Linked DNA regions of Homo sapiens. The protein of the gene in region 1 interacts with the protein of each later gene in a biochemical or structural test. Each region holds a gene or a part of one and is shown on either strand. Other genes may lie near its edges.

Region 1 (7,649 bases):
TGTGGCAGCTTGATGCGTATTTGTGGAGTGCCTTTCATCCCTTAGTTCCCTCATTCCACTGGGTCCATTTCCATTTTCTAGAACATTTTTAAAGTTCAGTAATCAAGAGTATAAATATTCTCAGAGTAGTGAAATTATTGCAAAGCATGGTGGAAGATGGGAATTTTCCCTTTATTTTTATGTATTTATTTTTGGAGATAGGATTTTGCTTTGTTGCCCAGGCTAGAGTGCAGTGGTGGGTCATGGCTCACTTGCACCCTCCACCTCCGGGTTCAAGTGATTCGCCTGCCTCAGCCTCTGGAGTAACTGGGACTGCAGGCATGTGCCACCATGTCTGGCTAATTTTTTTGTATTTTAGTAGAGATGGGGTTTTACCATGTTGCCGAAGGTGGTCTCAAACTCCTGAGCTCAGGCAGTCTGCCTGCCTTGGCCTCCCAAAGTGCTGGGATTACAGGAATGAGCCACTGCGCCCAGCCCTTCCCTTTATTTTAATGTGGAGGGGAGAACCAGTGGGTAAAAGTCTTAGGCTCCACCTAAGGAAATACTTCTCACCTTCAGATCGGAAAAGAAAATGGTCATTTGAACAGGGAGTGAGGCCCACGTCACAGCCACGAGGGTGTGCGCTTGAAAGAACCCTCAGAAACCATGACATGGTCAGGAGTGGGGTGTGCGGTGAGGCCAGGTCTCTCCAGGACCCAGTTCTGCTTGGCACCAGAGCCTTTTAATTCTCCTCTGAGTTGGATCTTGTTCCACCAGGGAGGTTGAGAGGTTGGCCTTTTCTTTCCATATTAATTTCCTCCTCAGTCATCAGACTGATGACATTCTGACCCTGCTGTGTAGTTTACAAAGCATATCAGAGCGTGTTGTGGGCCAGCCCAGGAGAGGAGCTGGTCATATCATTCATGGTGCATGTGTTGGGGAGGGGTGCTCCGGACGGCCTGGGCTGGTTTGGTGCTTGTGCAGTGGGGGTGGGGAAGGCTCTGGCCATGGGGAGATGCATTGCCCCTGGGTGGAATGTGGGCTGGCAGAGCCCCTGGGTTTCCCTCTCACCTGGTGGCCTTCACCCACAGAGGACTCTTTCATGTCCACTATTGGCTCTGCTGCTTCTGGCTGCTGGTGTCCTCTCGTAGTGGCTGCTGTGGGGCCATTTCTCTCTCAGACTTAATTTCATGGGAGCCACTGTAATAGGAGCAAAATCCCCAGGGTGTGGGGTTTGTATTGCAGACTGTGGCTCCAAGAGGCATCTCCAGGACAGAAGGGGCTTTGATATCTTCACCCATCTACACAGGCCTGGGCATTTCCTTGAGTCTCAGTGGGAGGGACACCAGCCATGGGATTTCCTCCTCTTTCCCCGTTTACAATAAAACCGTACTATGGAAACATCATATATGCATGCACCCGGTGCACTTCTGCAGACAGTGGGCTGTGTCTAGCTAAACCCAGCCTACTCTGCTCCAGCTGTTCCCCGAGAGGATTATAAGAGAGGTTGCAGACCCACCTGGATGCTCTGACCTCAGTCATACTGTGTGCCCCAGCTAGGGTAACAAGCCATCCTTCAGTTTGCATAAGACTGAGTAAATTCCCAGGATGCAAGACATTCAGTGCTGAAACCAGGACAGCTCCAGGCAAATTGGGACACTTGGTTATTCTACCTCGGCTGTTCTTCCTCCAGGCCTGCCACTCCATTGGAGTTTTGAGTCCAGATTTCTAGAATGTGCTGCATGCCGAGGAAGTCTGTCGGGGGGCAGGTGAGGGAGAGTGAGATGTCTTCTTTTCTTTTTCTTTTCCTATTCTTTTCCAACACATGCATTCACAGTCTTCACTGTGGCTAGCACAGGAGCCTCCATTGGCCAGCGCCGTATTTCCCTAAGCATTTGGTCTTGGCCCTAGGAACAGAGCTTTTGCTGTCTTTATTTGTCATCTCAAAGTGCATGGCCTTAAACTTGAGGTTCCCCACAGCACTTCACACTCAGCTGACTGCAGCAGGGCACTCTCTTCTGGTCATTTGTAAAGAACATCCATGGCTCCTGGACAAGACTCTTGCTTAGTAGTTGGCAAATGAGCAGAAGTATCCCCCTCCCTGCAGCTGATGTGTGTACCTGGGGCAGTTCCCATCCAAGTTCACATTACATCAGTGTTGGGATTCCATGTGTCTTGGCTTAGGAATCTTGGCACTCAAAGTAGGGGGCTTAGGAGCAAAAGAATCACACCTGTCCTGGAAGGAATGAGGGGGGCCTATCTGCTTGACTTCAAGGGACTCATTTCACTGTTTTTGTTTGTTTGTTTGTTTATTGTTGTTGTTGGTTTTCTGATGTGAAATGGAACAGGGGCAAATCTTTAAAGCTGGTGGAGTCAATTCCACAAACAAAACTTCCCTTCCTTTCTTAAGAGCTTTTTGTAGAAATCAGCCTTGCAATTAGCACTGCAACGTTCCAACCACTTAACACACTTCCCCACTGGCCTTTTGAAGCAAACAAGTATTTAGAAGCTGACAGGACAAAGTCACTTTATTTCTCCTTTTCCTTTACCTTGAAATTGTTCCTAGCCACAGGGCTGGCCACTCCTCACTGTCCAAAAAACTACCCTGATGCAGTATGCAGTGGCAGATCAGTTTAGTAAGGAATAACCCAAGTCACCGAATGCAAGAGAATGAAAACAAAAACAAAAACAAAAAAAACACCCTGTTGCATTAACGCAAGTATTCTCTGGGCTCTGTGTCTCTGGACGTGCATCTTCCAGAACCTGCAGGCGCGTGGCCTGCCCTCCACCTGCGTGGGAATGCATGCTGGATTTACATCCCAGTTACATCGCTTCCAGAAAGACAGGATCTCTGTTGGATGCCCATGAAGCTTATACTGAGTAAATATTGACAAAGTAGTCTAAAGAGCAAACACTTTGACATTTGTAAGGTCCACTGGAAGGTCTTGTATATATTTATACATCAGGAATGAGCACCGCATACCAATTTTCCTGAACTTGTTGTGACATAATTCTGCATGGAGAGTGTGTGTGCACAGGTGGCTGAGAACGGCTGAGTGTTCACATGGGGGACAGGGCTGGGGGCTGGGTGGTAGCTGGTCAGGGTATTTCCTCTCAACTGGAACGAACCCACACCTATCCCTGCCAGGAAACCTACCTCTAAGCTTTTCTGAGACCTGCTTTTCCAGAAGGAAGAAAGAAAAAAAAAAAGCCACAAAATCTTGTTTTTCCCTTATTACAATGGACGTACTTTTCTTTTTACTTGGTAAAAATTTTATTGATGTTTTTATACTTTATATTTATTAAAGATTGAGCCTCAAAAATGTAATGAGTAAAAAATGCTTGCTTAATTTAAATTGTGAATCTGTCTGTTAAGAAATGCATTAGGGGTAGGAGAAGCATAAGACATATTAATTGACAGACAGGAACTGCTGTCTCTGAGGTTGATACAAGTAATTTATTACTTTAGAAATGAATGCCACCTCCAGAATGTGCTTCATTAATTTCAAATTTAGTTTTAATTTCAAGCTGTTGCCCCTTGAGAAGAATAAGGTGGCAAATTATGTTTGAAGAGCAGATTTTTTTTTTTTTTTGCTCCAAAGAAACACCACATTTTAACTGTTTAATTTTACAAATACATGTACCCATCTGGGTTGCTGTGTTTTCCTGAGAGCCCAGAACATATTCTAGGTAAGATCAACAAGTACTAATGCTTTTTTTTTTCTTTCTCTCCTTCTCCCTGTCTCTCTTCATTCCATCCTACCTGTCTCTCTTTCCCACCTGTTATCATGGCAGCCTATGTTTCCGAAGAGTTAAAGGCTGCTGCCCTGGTGGACGAAGGTTTAGACCCAGAGGAGCATACGGCAGATGGAGAGCCCTCGGCCAAGTACATGTGCCCGGAGAAGGAGCTCGCCAGGGCCTGCCCCAGCTACCAGAACTCCCCGGCCGCCGAGTTTTCCTGCCATGAAATGGACAGCGAGTCACACATCAGTGAGACCAGTGACCGAATGGCTGACTTTGAAAGCGGCTCCATCAAGAACGAAGAGGAGACCAAGGAGGTCACGGTCCCACTGGAAGACACGACTGTGTCGGATAGCCTGGAGCAGATGAAGGCCGTGTACAACAACTTCCTCTCCAACTCCTACTGGTCCAACCTCAACCTCAACCTGCACCAGCCCTCCTCGGAGAAGAACAACGGCAGCAGCAGCAGCAGCAGTAGCAGCAGCAGCAGCTGTGGCAGCGGGAGCTTCGACTGGCACCAGAGCGCCATGGCTAAGACGCTGCAGCAGGTGTCACAGAGCCGCATGCTCCCGGAGCCCAGCCTCTTCAGCACCGTGCAGCTGTACCGGCAGAGCAGCAAGCTCTATGGCTCCATCTTCACGGGGGCCAGCAAGTTCCGCTGTAAGGACTGCAGCGCTGCCTACGACACCCTGGTGGAGTTGACGGTGCACATGAACGAGACGGGGCATTACCGCGACGACAACCATGAGACCGATAACAACAACCCCAAGCGCTGGTCCAAGCCTCGCAAACGCTCCTTGCTGGAAATGGAAGGGAAGGAAGACGCCCAGAAGGTGCTGAAGTGCATGTACTGTGGCCACTCCTTTGAGTCCCTGCAGGATTTGAGTGTCCATATGATCAAAACAAAACACTACCAAAAAGTGCCTCTGAAGGAACCCGTCACTCCTGTCGCCGCCAAAATCATCCCTGCCACTCGGAAGAAAGCTTCCCTGGAGCTGGAGCTCCCCAGCTCCCCAGATTCCACAGGTGGAACCCCCAAAGCCACCATCTCAGACACCAACGATGCACTTCAGAAGAACTCCAACCCTTACATCACGCCAAATAATCGGTACGGCCACCAGAATGGGGCCAGCTATGCATGGCACTTTGAGGCCCGGAAGTCGCAGATCCTGAAGTGCATGGAGTGTGGGAGCTCGCATGACACCCTGCAGGAGCTCACTGCCCACATGATGGTCACTGGCCACTTCATCAAGGTCACCAACTCTGCTATGAAAAAGGGGAAGCCCATTGTGGAGACGCCTGTCACACCTACCATCACAACCCTGCTGGATGAGAAGGTCCAGTCCGTGCCCCTGGCAGCCACCACCTTCACGTCCCCCTCCAATACACCTGCCAGCATCTCCCCAAAACTGAATGTGGAGGTCAAGAAGGAAGTCGACAAGGAGAAAGCGGTCACTGACGAGAAACCTAAGCAAAAAGACAAGCCTGGCGAAGAAGAGGAGAAGTGTGACATCTCTTCCAAATACCATTACTTGACTGAAAATGACTTAGAAGAGAGTCCCAAGGGGGGGCTTGATATCCTCAAATCCTTGGAAAACACAGTGACATCCGCAATCAACAAGGCCCAGAACGGCACTCCTAGCTGGGGGGGCTATCCCAGCATCCATGCCGCCTACCAACTTCCCAACATGATGAAGTTGTCCCTGGGCTCGTCGGGGAAGAGCACGCCCCTGAAACCCATGTTTGGCAACAGTGAGATTGTCTCCCCGACGAAAAACCAGACCCTGGTCTCTCCACCCAGCAGCCAGACGTCCCCCATGCCCAAGACAAACTTTCATGCCATGGAGGAGCTGGTGAAAAAGGTCACTGAGAAAGTTGCCAAAGTGGAGGAGAAGATGAAGGAGCCGGATGGGAAGCTTTCCCCGCCCAAGCGGGCCACTCCCTCCCCATGTAGCAGCGAAGTCGGGGAACCCATCAAGATGGAGGCATCCAGCGATGGGGGCTTCCGCAGCCAGGAGAACAGCCCCAGCCCCCCGCGGGATGGGTGCAAGGATGGGAGCCCCCTCGCTGAGCCGGTGGAGAATGGCAAGGAGCTGGTGAAGCCCCTAGCCAGCAGTTTGAGTGGCAGCACGGCCATCATCACCGACCACCCGCCTGAACAGCCTTTTGTTAACCCTTTGAGCGCCCTGCAGTCAGTCATGAACATTCACCTGGGCAAGGCCGCCAAGCCCTCCCTGCCTGCCCTGGACCCCATGAGCATGCTTTTCAAGATGAGCAACAGCCTGGCGGAGAAGGCTGCTGTGGCCACCCCGCCGCCCCTGCAGTCCAAGAAGGCAGACCACCTCGACCGCTATTTCTACCACGTCAACAACGACCAGCCCATAGACTTGACAAAAGGGAAGAGTGACAAAGGCTGCTCCTTGGGTTCAGTGCTTCTGTCACCCACGTCCACAGCCCCGGCAACCTCCTCATCCACGGTGACAACGGCAAAGACATCTGCCGTCGTATCATTCATGTCAAACTCGCCGCTACGCGAGAATGCCTTGTCAGATATATCCGATATGCTGAAGAACTTGACAGAGAGCCACACGTCAAAATCCTCCACTCCTTCCAGCATCTCCGAGAAGTCTGACATTGACGGGGCCACTCTGGAGGAGGCTGAGGAGTCGACGCCCGCCCAGAAGAGGAAGGGCCGCCAGTCAAACTGGAACCCCCAGCACCTCCTGATCCTCCAGGCCCAGTTTGCCGCCAGCCTCCGGCAGACCTCAGAAGGGAAGTACATCATGTCAGACCTGAGCCCCCAGGAGCGGATGCATATCTCCAGGTTCACCGGGCTGTCCATGACCACCATCAGCCACTGGCTGGCCAACGTGAAATACCAGCTTCGAAGGACAGGTGGAACAAAGTTCCTCAAAAACTTGGACACTGGCCACCCCGTCTTCTTTTGTAACGATTGTGCGTCCCAAATCAGGACTCCTTCCACGTACATCAGTCACCTAGAGTCACACTTAGGCTTCCGGCTACGGGACTTATCCAAACTGTCCACCGAACAGATTAACAGTCAGATAGCACAAACCAAGTCACCGTCAGAAAAAATGGTGACGTCCTCCCCCGAGGAAGACCTGGGGACTTCCTATCAGTGCAAACTTTGCAATCGGACCTTTGCCAGCAAGCACGCTGTTAAACTTCACCTTAGCAAAACACACGGGAAATCTCCGGAAGACCACCTTCTGTATGTCTCTGAGTTAGAGAAGCAGTAGCATTTGCTTTTGATAGAAAGGACTGCAGTTTGCTTTGAGGGAAACTGTGGAAGGCACCTTCAGGCCCCCTCTGACTTGTTGTTCTTGGCACATGTTCTTATTTTAACTGCAGAGAATCACTCTGGGCTGGACTGTTTTGTATAACTGTACAGTGTTTAATAGAGGTGCATAATCAGCTGTTGTTACTGGTAAAATATGAAGGTTAAAATGCAGTGGTAAGTGTTTGGAACTTTGTGTAAACGGGATTTAGTTGTGAGCATCCTCCCGATGCTTCAAGCTGCATGCATTAACAGACAGTTTAATTAAGCATTTATAACGGAATCAGGCACACCTTTTCCACGAGACTCGAGTGTGCTGGCATTTCTCACCCTTTCATCTTTAGCCCTCTGAGTACTTTGAAGCACTTTTGCATTAATTTGGTTAAAAAATAAAATAAAATAATAATAATGTATGAAGCTCTGTTTTTTAAACTCCTTACCAGCTTAGTTATAATGAATAATATGAACCTCCATTTATGCAGGTCTGCAGGGGTATAACACGCCTTGAAATTTAAAAGAATATTATTTTCACATTGAAACATAGATGTATATATTGTATAGATTTCAGACTCTCTTATGAAAAAAAATGTGATTGTGGTTAAATGACCTTTTTCTTGCATTTATAGCAACA
Region 2 (7,649 bases), on another chromosome or scaffold:
TTCTCCTGCCTCAACCTCCCGAGTAGCTGGGATTACAGGCGTTTGTAACCACGCCCAGCTAATTTTGTATTTTTAGTAGAGACAAGGTTTCACCATGTTGGCCAGGCTGATCTCGAACTCCTGACCTCACGTGATCCACCTGCCTCGGCCTCCCAAAGTGCTGGGATTACAGGCATAAGCCACCATGCCCAGCCAATGTTTGTGTTTTTTGTAGAGACAGGGTTTCACCATGTTAACCAGGCTGTTTCTGAACTCCTGGCCTCAAGCAATCCACCCACCTTAGCCTTTCAAAATGCTGGGATTACAGGCGTGAGCCACTGTGCCCAGGCTCAATCCAGCCTTTTTTTGGCAGGATATTTAATGATATTAAAGAATTATTATTAAATTTTTGTAGGTACAATAATGATATTGTGGTGGGTTTTTTTTTTAAGAGTTTTATCTTTCAGAAATGCAAAAGTAAACTGTTGTTGTTGTTGTTGAGAAAGGGTCTCTCTCTGCCATCCAGGCTGGAATGCAGTGGCTCAATCATGGCTCACTGTAGTCTCGACTTTCTTGGGTTCGGATGATCCTCTCAGGTCAGTCACCTGAGTAGCTGAGACCACAGTGGCTGATGCCTCCACTCCCGGCTAATTTTTTTGTCTTTTTTATAGAGGAGAGGTTTTGCCATGTTGCTCAGACTGGTCTTGAACTCTTGGGCTCAAGCAATCTACCCATTTTAGCCTTCTAAAATGCTGGGATTACAGGTGTGAGCCACTGCACCCAGCTGTAAACATTTATAGATAAAAGTATTTGCTTCAGAATAACCTACGCTGGGCCTAGGAACGGAAGAGAGCATGCAGGTAGCAAGATTAGTTATGTATTGATAATTGGTAAAACTGGCTCGTGGGTAAATCAGGCTCATTATTCTTTTCTCTCTATTTTTGTGTATGTTTGAAAATGTCCAGAATGAGTTTTTCGAAAGGGGATGGTGTGCAGCCCTAGGCTCATCTGAACTGCATGTTCTCCACAAAGATTGCACAGTTTGGGGTATGGGTATTGTGTCCGCCACCTGGTAAGGATAGGGGTCTTTCCTAATCTTTCTTAGACCTCCATCTACAAAACTCCAGGGTTTTGGTTGTAACTATAGCCCATTATCTCCACTCTTTGTTCCTCAGCTTTTCCTGTATTCGCTACACGACATTAGAAAATGTGGAGACTCAGCTTAATTTAAATGGACATATTTAATGATTAAGCCCTGGAGTCCTAGTATCTATTCTCCTCCCCCTACCCAAAGGGTTTTCTTTTCTAACTTTTAGTCAATATCCTACTCCTGACAAAACTGTATCCTTGCAATGGTGCTGGAGCATGTGGATTATAAGCACACAACATTCCCAGTCTTTCCAAACAGACCTCTGTGGGGAGCTGCTGGCTGCTCCCAACAGGCGTGACCTGTTAAAACGGGGCAGACTGGCGACAGAGTGAGACTCTGTCTCAAAAAAAAAAAAAACGGGGCCGACTGTCCCAAGTGCACCTGAGTGCATTGTGCTCTATGCATTGGCGGCAGCATAACACGGGGCCAAGAGCTCAGGCCTGGACTGAGACCTGGTTTAGATTTCAGCTCTATTGTAATCTCAGCCTGTCTGTGGTCTCGAGAAAGCTACTAAACCTCTCTGGATCTCTTTTTTGTTATCTGTAATATGGGAATCATCATAATATTTACCTCACAGCTTTATTGTAAGGATAAAGCCTGAAAATGCTGAGCAGAGGGCCAGTTACCTAGTCAGTGCCCAGTAAACTAGTCCACTTATCAACCATGGTGGCATGCATAATGAATAGATCCATCCATCCGGGCATGCATGATGGTCAGATCTACCAGAATGTCCAAGCACTCTCTGAATGAAAAAGCCTGGACATGGCCTGCTGTGGCCTCAGGGTATGGGCTCTCAGCTCACATCAGGCTGGCACTGGCCTCTGTATGAGAGTCCTAACCTCTGCCCTCACACCCTCCCACATGCCCATGTCAAGCTCCACAAGGTACCTGTGTCCTCTGGGGAGCCATAGGAGGGGCTGCCCTGGGATAAGGTAGCCCAGCTTGAGTCCTCATCACTGGCTGCACTGTTCCGCATGCCAAACAGGAGGCTGGCACTCTTGCTGTGTTCCCGGGGGCCATCTGTAAGGGCTTGGGGCCTGGGAGGGGCCTCCACACTCTCCAGGGGCTCAGGCAGCCCTGGGGGAGAAGATAAGTCCTCCTCCTCCTCTTCATCATCATCATCCTCCTCCTCCTCCTCGGCCTCCCCGGCCGCCTTCTCCTCTCCCTCATCTGGCCCCTGCTCTTGAGTGCTGATGATCAGGCCAGGTCCTCGTAGGCCTCGGTTGGCTGCGTTGTGAGCTGAGAGCTCCAGCTCAGAGTACAGGTGTATCAGGCCTTTGGGGCCCAAGGGTGCCATCTCAGGCTCCTGGCTGGCCTCCTCCGCCAAGGTCAAGGTCACATTGCGATTCTGGTCACGGTGGGCCGTGGCGGCCCGCCGGAGCTGGTTCTGGCCCTCTTTTAGCCACTTGGCATTGGCAGGGCCTGGCTCAGGCCCACCACCCTCCCCCATGGCGCTGCGCAGGTCCTTGGGTCCCACAGCTGTGGCCTGCAGCTTGGCGTTGAGCAGCTGGTTGTGGGCAGCGTGCAGAGGCAGGGGTAGGCTCAGTGCGGGGCCTCCGTGGCTGTTGGCATTAATGGCCGACTGGCTCAGTGATGATGGAACAGACATGGCCTTGGCAGCTCCTGTGGGGTGCGGAGGGGAGATGCTGTTGAGCCTCTGGTCCAGAACAGCAGCATCACTGCTTCTGCCCCAGGGCTATGCCCTGTGCCTCCTCATCTCCCTGCACTAAGCAGGCTAGCACCCATGGCTCTCTATCCTATGAGAATGACTGGGTTCAACTTCTGTCCCAGCACTATCATCCCCATCACAGTCCAGGCCCAGGTCTGAGGCCCACCCCATCCCTATATCCCCTGCCCTGAGCTTTCTGGGATGGCACAGCTGGCGCCTGCCCTCGGTCCCACCAGCAAGGCCTCCACACAATGGCTCTCTGTGCCTCCCCACCCCCCAGCTCATCCACCCGGGGCTTACTGTGCCAGGAACACCACTAGAGTGGGACCGGCTCGTGTGTTTTGGACACTGATCACTGACTGCCCCTCTCCGGCCGCACTTCCATCCCAAGCCCCATCACTGTAAGCTCCTCCGGCTGTGTTCCTATTCCCATAAATCACTCAGCTCAACCAGCCCCCAAGCCCACCCCATACTAGGGACTGTGAGGACAGGAGCAAATAAGCTGCAGAACCAGCCCTACAGGGCATGGCACTGGAAGGCAGGTCACAGAGGGAGGGCGCTCGGCTGCAATTCATGGCTTCTCTGGCCAGATGAAGCTACATCTTGGTGACAATTTCCATGAAGTAGCTCCCCTTGGGCACTGGTCCCTCTGCCAGCCCTCATAATGCCCTGTCCTGGATCACTATGGGAGCCTTTCCCCTGGGCCCCTCAGCCTTTCAGATCTTTGTTTTTTGGGGGTTGTTTGTCTGTTTGTTTGTTTTTGAGACAGAATCTTGCTCTTGTTGCCCAGGCTGGAGTGCAATGGCACAATCTTGGCTCACTGCAACCTCTGCCTCTCGGGTTCAAGTGATTCTCCTGCCTCAGCCTCCTGAGTAGCTGTGATTACAGGTGCCCACCACCACGCCCAGGTAATTTTTGTATTTTTAGTAGAGACGGGGCTTCACCATGTTGGTCAGGCTGATCTCAAACTCCTGACCTCGTGATCCGCCCACTTCGGCCTCCCAAAGTGCTGGGATTACAGGCATGAGCCACTGCGTCCGGCCCAGCCTTTCAGATCTTTGACCAAATGTCACAGCCTCAGTGAAGCCTTCCCTGAACACCCATTTTAAAACCACAGGCTACCTCCGCCCCTCCTCAGCAATCCCTAAACTCTTCCCCAGCGCCTGTCACCATCTGACAAGCCAATTTATTATTTACTTTGTCTAATGATTGTCTCCTCATGACTATAATTTATAATTTCCATGTTGGTGAGGATTTTGCCTTTTTGGTTAAATACAGTATGCCTAGTGCCTAGCGTAGTCCTGGCACAGAGCAGGAACTCCATTAATATTTGCTGAATGAATGTATGAATCAGTCCCCATTTCCTCCAGGCTTCGCTTTGGCATCTCCTCTGCCAGTGTCAGAAAACACTTTGGTTACGTTACTATGCCTTATGGTGCCCCAAACAAACTCCACCTGCCTCTCAGGTAAGAGGACGTCCTGTTCCGCAAGGACAGCTCCCCCTCCAGACCCCTCCCTCTGCCTCCTCACAGCCCTTCGTGGGTCAGTTTCTCCGCAACCATTTGAGTCCCAACTATCCTTCCAGCCCGCCACCCAGGGACCCACCCTCGGCCCCATTCCATCCTCCCCACTCTCCCTGACCTTCCAGTTGCTCTGCTGCTCTCCTTCCCGGACCCCCAAGAGAAAGTGCTCTCTCCCTGGACCCTCACCAGCCCCCGATTTCAGTTATTTCTCCCTGACCAACCACTGCCCACTTCTCTCTCATCCTGAGCCCTCCATGCAAGCCCTCCTTCAGACAGCCCCTACCACATTACTCTCTCCTCCCTCGATGGCCTCACTGATTCTCTTGCCCTACCCGACCCTTCCCCCAACAGACAATTCTCCCTCACTGACCATCCCAACAAACACTGCACTGTGCTCTTTCTCATTCCCACTGTACAGACCTTTCTCCTTGATGTCTTATCTGAGAGTTCCCTATCTCCCTGTTCCTCTACTAAGGAGTTCTTTCTTTCCCTGACTCACCACTACCCCCCTTCCCTCTGTGTTCTCAGCGCTGAGCACAGGTCTTGCAGCTACCTGAGCAGGGCTTGCCCATCTCTCCAGGTGCGGTGCGCCCAGGCTGGAGTGCAATGGCACGATCTCAGCTCACTGCAACCTCCTGCAGCCTCCTGAGTAGCTGGGATTATAGGTGCCCACCACCACGCCCAGCTAATTTTTGTAATTCTTTTTTTTTTTTTCTTTTAAGTAGAGATAGGGTTTCACCATGTTGGCCAGGCTGGTCTCAAACTCCTGACCTCAGGTGATCCACCCGCCTCAGCCTCCCAAAGTGCTGGGATTACAGGCGTGAGCCACCGCGCCCGGCCCCATAGCTCACCTTTCTACGTCTCTAGTTCCTCAGACACTAGTGCTATGCTACCCACACATCTGTAAGATGAAAAAGGTTTCTGCGCACGTGTCTGCCTCACGTGGGGCTGTTGATCTGCTCAGTGTGACTCCTCCTGGCCAATGAGAAAACTCACAGCCACTGGAATAAATGAAGAAAAAAATAGCTCTACCTCCTCCCAGAACCACAGTAATCTTCCAAAAATGGAAACCAGATTGTGTCACTCCCTGGTTCAGAAAATGAGAGGGCTCACCACTGCCTTTCGGATAACGCCTGCACTCGTTCGCAGACACCCAAGAGCCCTCTTAAGCCGGCCTCTATAACCTGTCAGTCCCCTCCCCACCTCCCGCCTCCTTTATACCTTATACTCTAGCCACATGAAGCGTGGCGGATTCTGAAACATGTCGCACACTCTTAAAGCCCTGGGTCTTTGTTTATACTGCTCCCTCGGCCTGGAATTCTGTCTCCCCTTGTGAGAACCTCTGCTTGTATTTCAAAACTAACCTCAGCAGTTACAGCTCCTAAGCAGTCTTTCCTGTTCTCTCCCCACCATCAAGTGACTGTTCTCTCCTTCGTGTCTCACAACACCCAGAACCACATTCTATCAGAATATCTGAGACGGTGTCTTATTCAATTTCACATTCCCATTACCAAAGAGAGTGTGCCGTGTGCCGACACAGACTGGGCTGTTGCAGAAGGAAAGGACGGATGAACGGGACAGACACAGGGGGTGGGAGGATCCAGGAAGCTCAGAACTGGCTGGGAATAAATACCAAGAAAGGCTGTGTGGCCCAATGGGCTGGGGAGGAGCAAAGGGAGTGTTTGGGAGGGTGTCAGAGAATGCCAAAGGGTCCCTGAGTGGGAAGTAAGATGGGACAGGAATCCTGGAGAGGTGAGGGCTGAGATCTAGGAAAAGGGAGCGAGGGAGGTAGCTTAAACCAACATCTTGGCACAGACACTGTTCAAGAGTGGCATCTCCATGGGTGTCAGGAAGCAGAAGACTCCACGACTCTGCCATGCTCAGAGGACCTTAAGGATGGCAAACCCTTCTCTGAAGCAGTAGTGTACAGAGCCAGGTTTCTCAAAGGTCAGGCAGAGACCAACCTCCTAGGCACTAGGAGATATGATCTGAGAAGAGTGCATGCACTGTGAGGCTGAAACAGTGAAGAGCCAAGTTGACCTCAGGGCAGCCCCGCCAATCTGGTCACCAGGGCAGGAAGTATTAGAGGAAGAATGGTGAAACTGTTTAAGTGCTGAAGCCTGAGCATCTAGCCTGAGGTGGTGTGGTCACCAACACCCCACTGCTCGAGGTCAAAAAGATGATCTCAGTCCAATTTTTTAAAGAAGGAACACAACCTAATCTCTCCCCTCTCATTGGAGTTACCAAAGGATGCAAAGAGCCAACTGGGTTCTGGCTCAAGGCAGGGAGTTGGGCAGGGGCCTCGGGGCAGGAAGTGAAAGAAGTAGTCACTAAGCCTGAAGATCCTGGCATCAGACCACAGGGGTTGGGGTTGAGTCTTGCTCAAAGTCAGGAGTTGTCTAATCTGACAGCTTCCCATATGCCAGGCACTGTGCTAGACACAGGGGAGAGTGATGAAGACAAAAGAAATGGTTCTTCCTCTGGAGGAGTTCTCAGTTCAGCGGGAAACAGTCATTGAACAACTTGTTACAATGCAGTGTAACACCAACATCTAGAACAGTGCCTGGCACCCATAGCATTCCCTATTTGTTGACTGAATATCATGAAGGAGGAAGAGGAGGGCATTACAGGAACCTGGGGCTTACTACAGCCAAGACATCAGCAAAGGCCTGCCTGAGACTAGGACATAACTCTCCATTGGCCACCCGTCTCAGAGGCTGATCTCCCCTCCTGATTCACAGAGGAAAGGGAAGCCATCCAACTGGGTAACATCCTCAAACATAAAAACCTAACCAAACTTCAGCACCTATCCCTTTCTCTCCTTCCCAAAACCAACTGCTTCACCTATGATTTGGATTCTTCCTATGATGCCTTTCCAGGAATTTTATACCACTGTTTATCTATTTTCTCCTCTATATGATCAACCTCTCCTTCTCAATAGGATCCACGGTCTCCCAACTTGACCTGACGCTCCTCCAGATCCACTCACTGCTCTCTTTCCTCCCCCATACAGGCAAACTTCCTGAGAGAGTTGTCTCCACTCACTGTTGCCACTTCCTCACCTCCCACTCACTCCTCAACCCTTTCCAAACCTGCTTCCACTCCCAACACGACTCAGTAACAGCTCCTACCAAGGTCAACATGACCCCTGTGTCATTCAATCCAACAGACACAGTGCTCGTCTTGGTTGTCCTCCCAGCAGCATCTGACCCCGTGAATCTCTCATCCAGCCTCTATCCGGGGCCTCCACACTCTCATCTCCACACTCCTCATCTCATCTCATCTTTTACACTTCTTGTTACTGTTTGCTGGGTTCCTAGACTCCTCT

What was found.
Region 2: the proteins of TSHZ3 (region 1) and APBB1 form a complex in vitro, tested with the Homo sapiens proteins (one study listed by BioGRID).

What each region holds. Positions count from the first base shown.
Region 1 is NC_000019.10:31,275,878-31,283,526, reverse strand, and holds part of TSHZ3 (teashirt homolog 3), read left to right. Parts: intron 1-3,774; coding exon 3,775-6,980; 3' UTR 6,981-7,649. UniProt on the Homo sapiens protein: Transcriptional regulator involved in developmental processes. Functions in association with APBB1, SET and HDAC factors as a transcriptional repressor, that inhibits the expression of CASP4.
Region 2 is NC_000011.10:6,408,610-6,416,258, forward strand, and holds part of APBB1 (amyloid beta precursor protein binding family B member 1), read right to left. Parts: intron 2,753-7,649; 5' UTR 2,739-2,752; coding exon 2,018-2,738; intron 1-2,017. UniProt on the Homo sapiens protein: Transcription coregulator that can have both coactivator and corepressor functions. Adapter protein that forms a transcriptionally active complex with the gamma-secretase-derived amyloid precursor protein (APP) intracellular domain.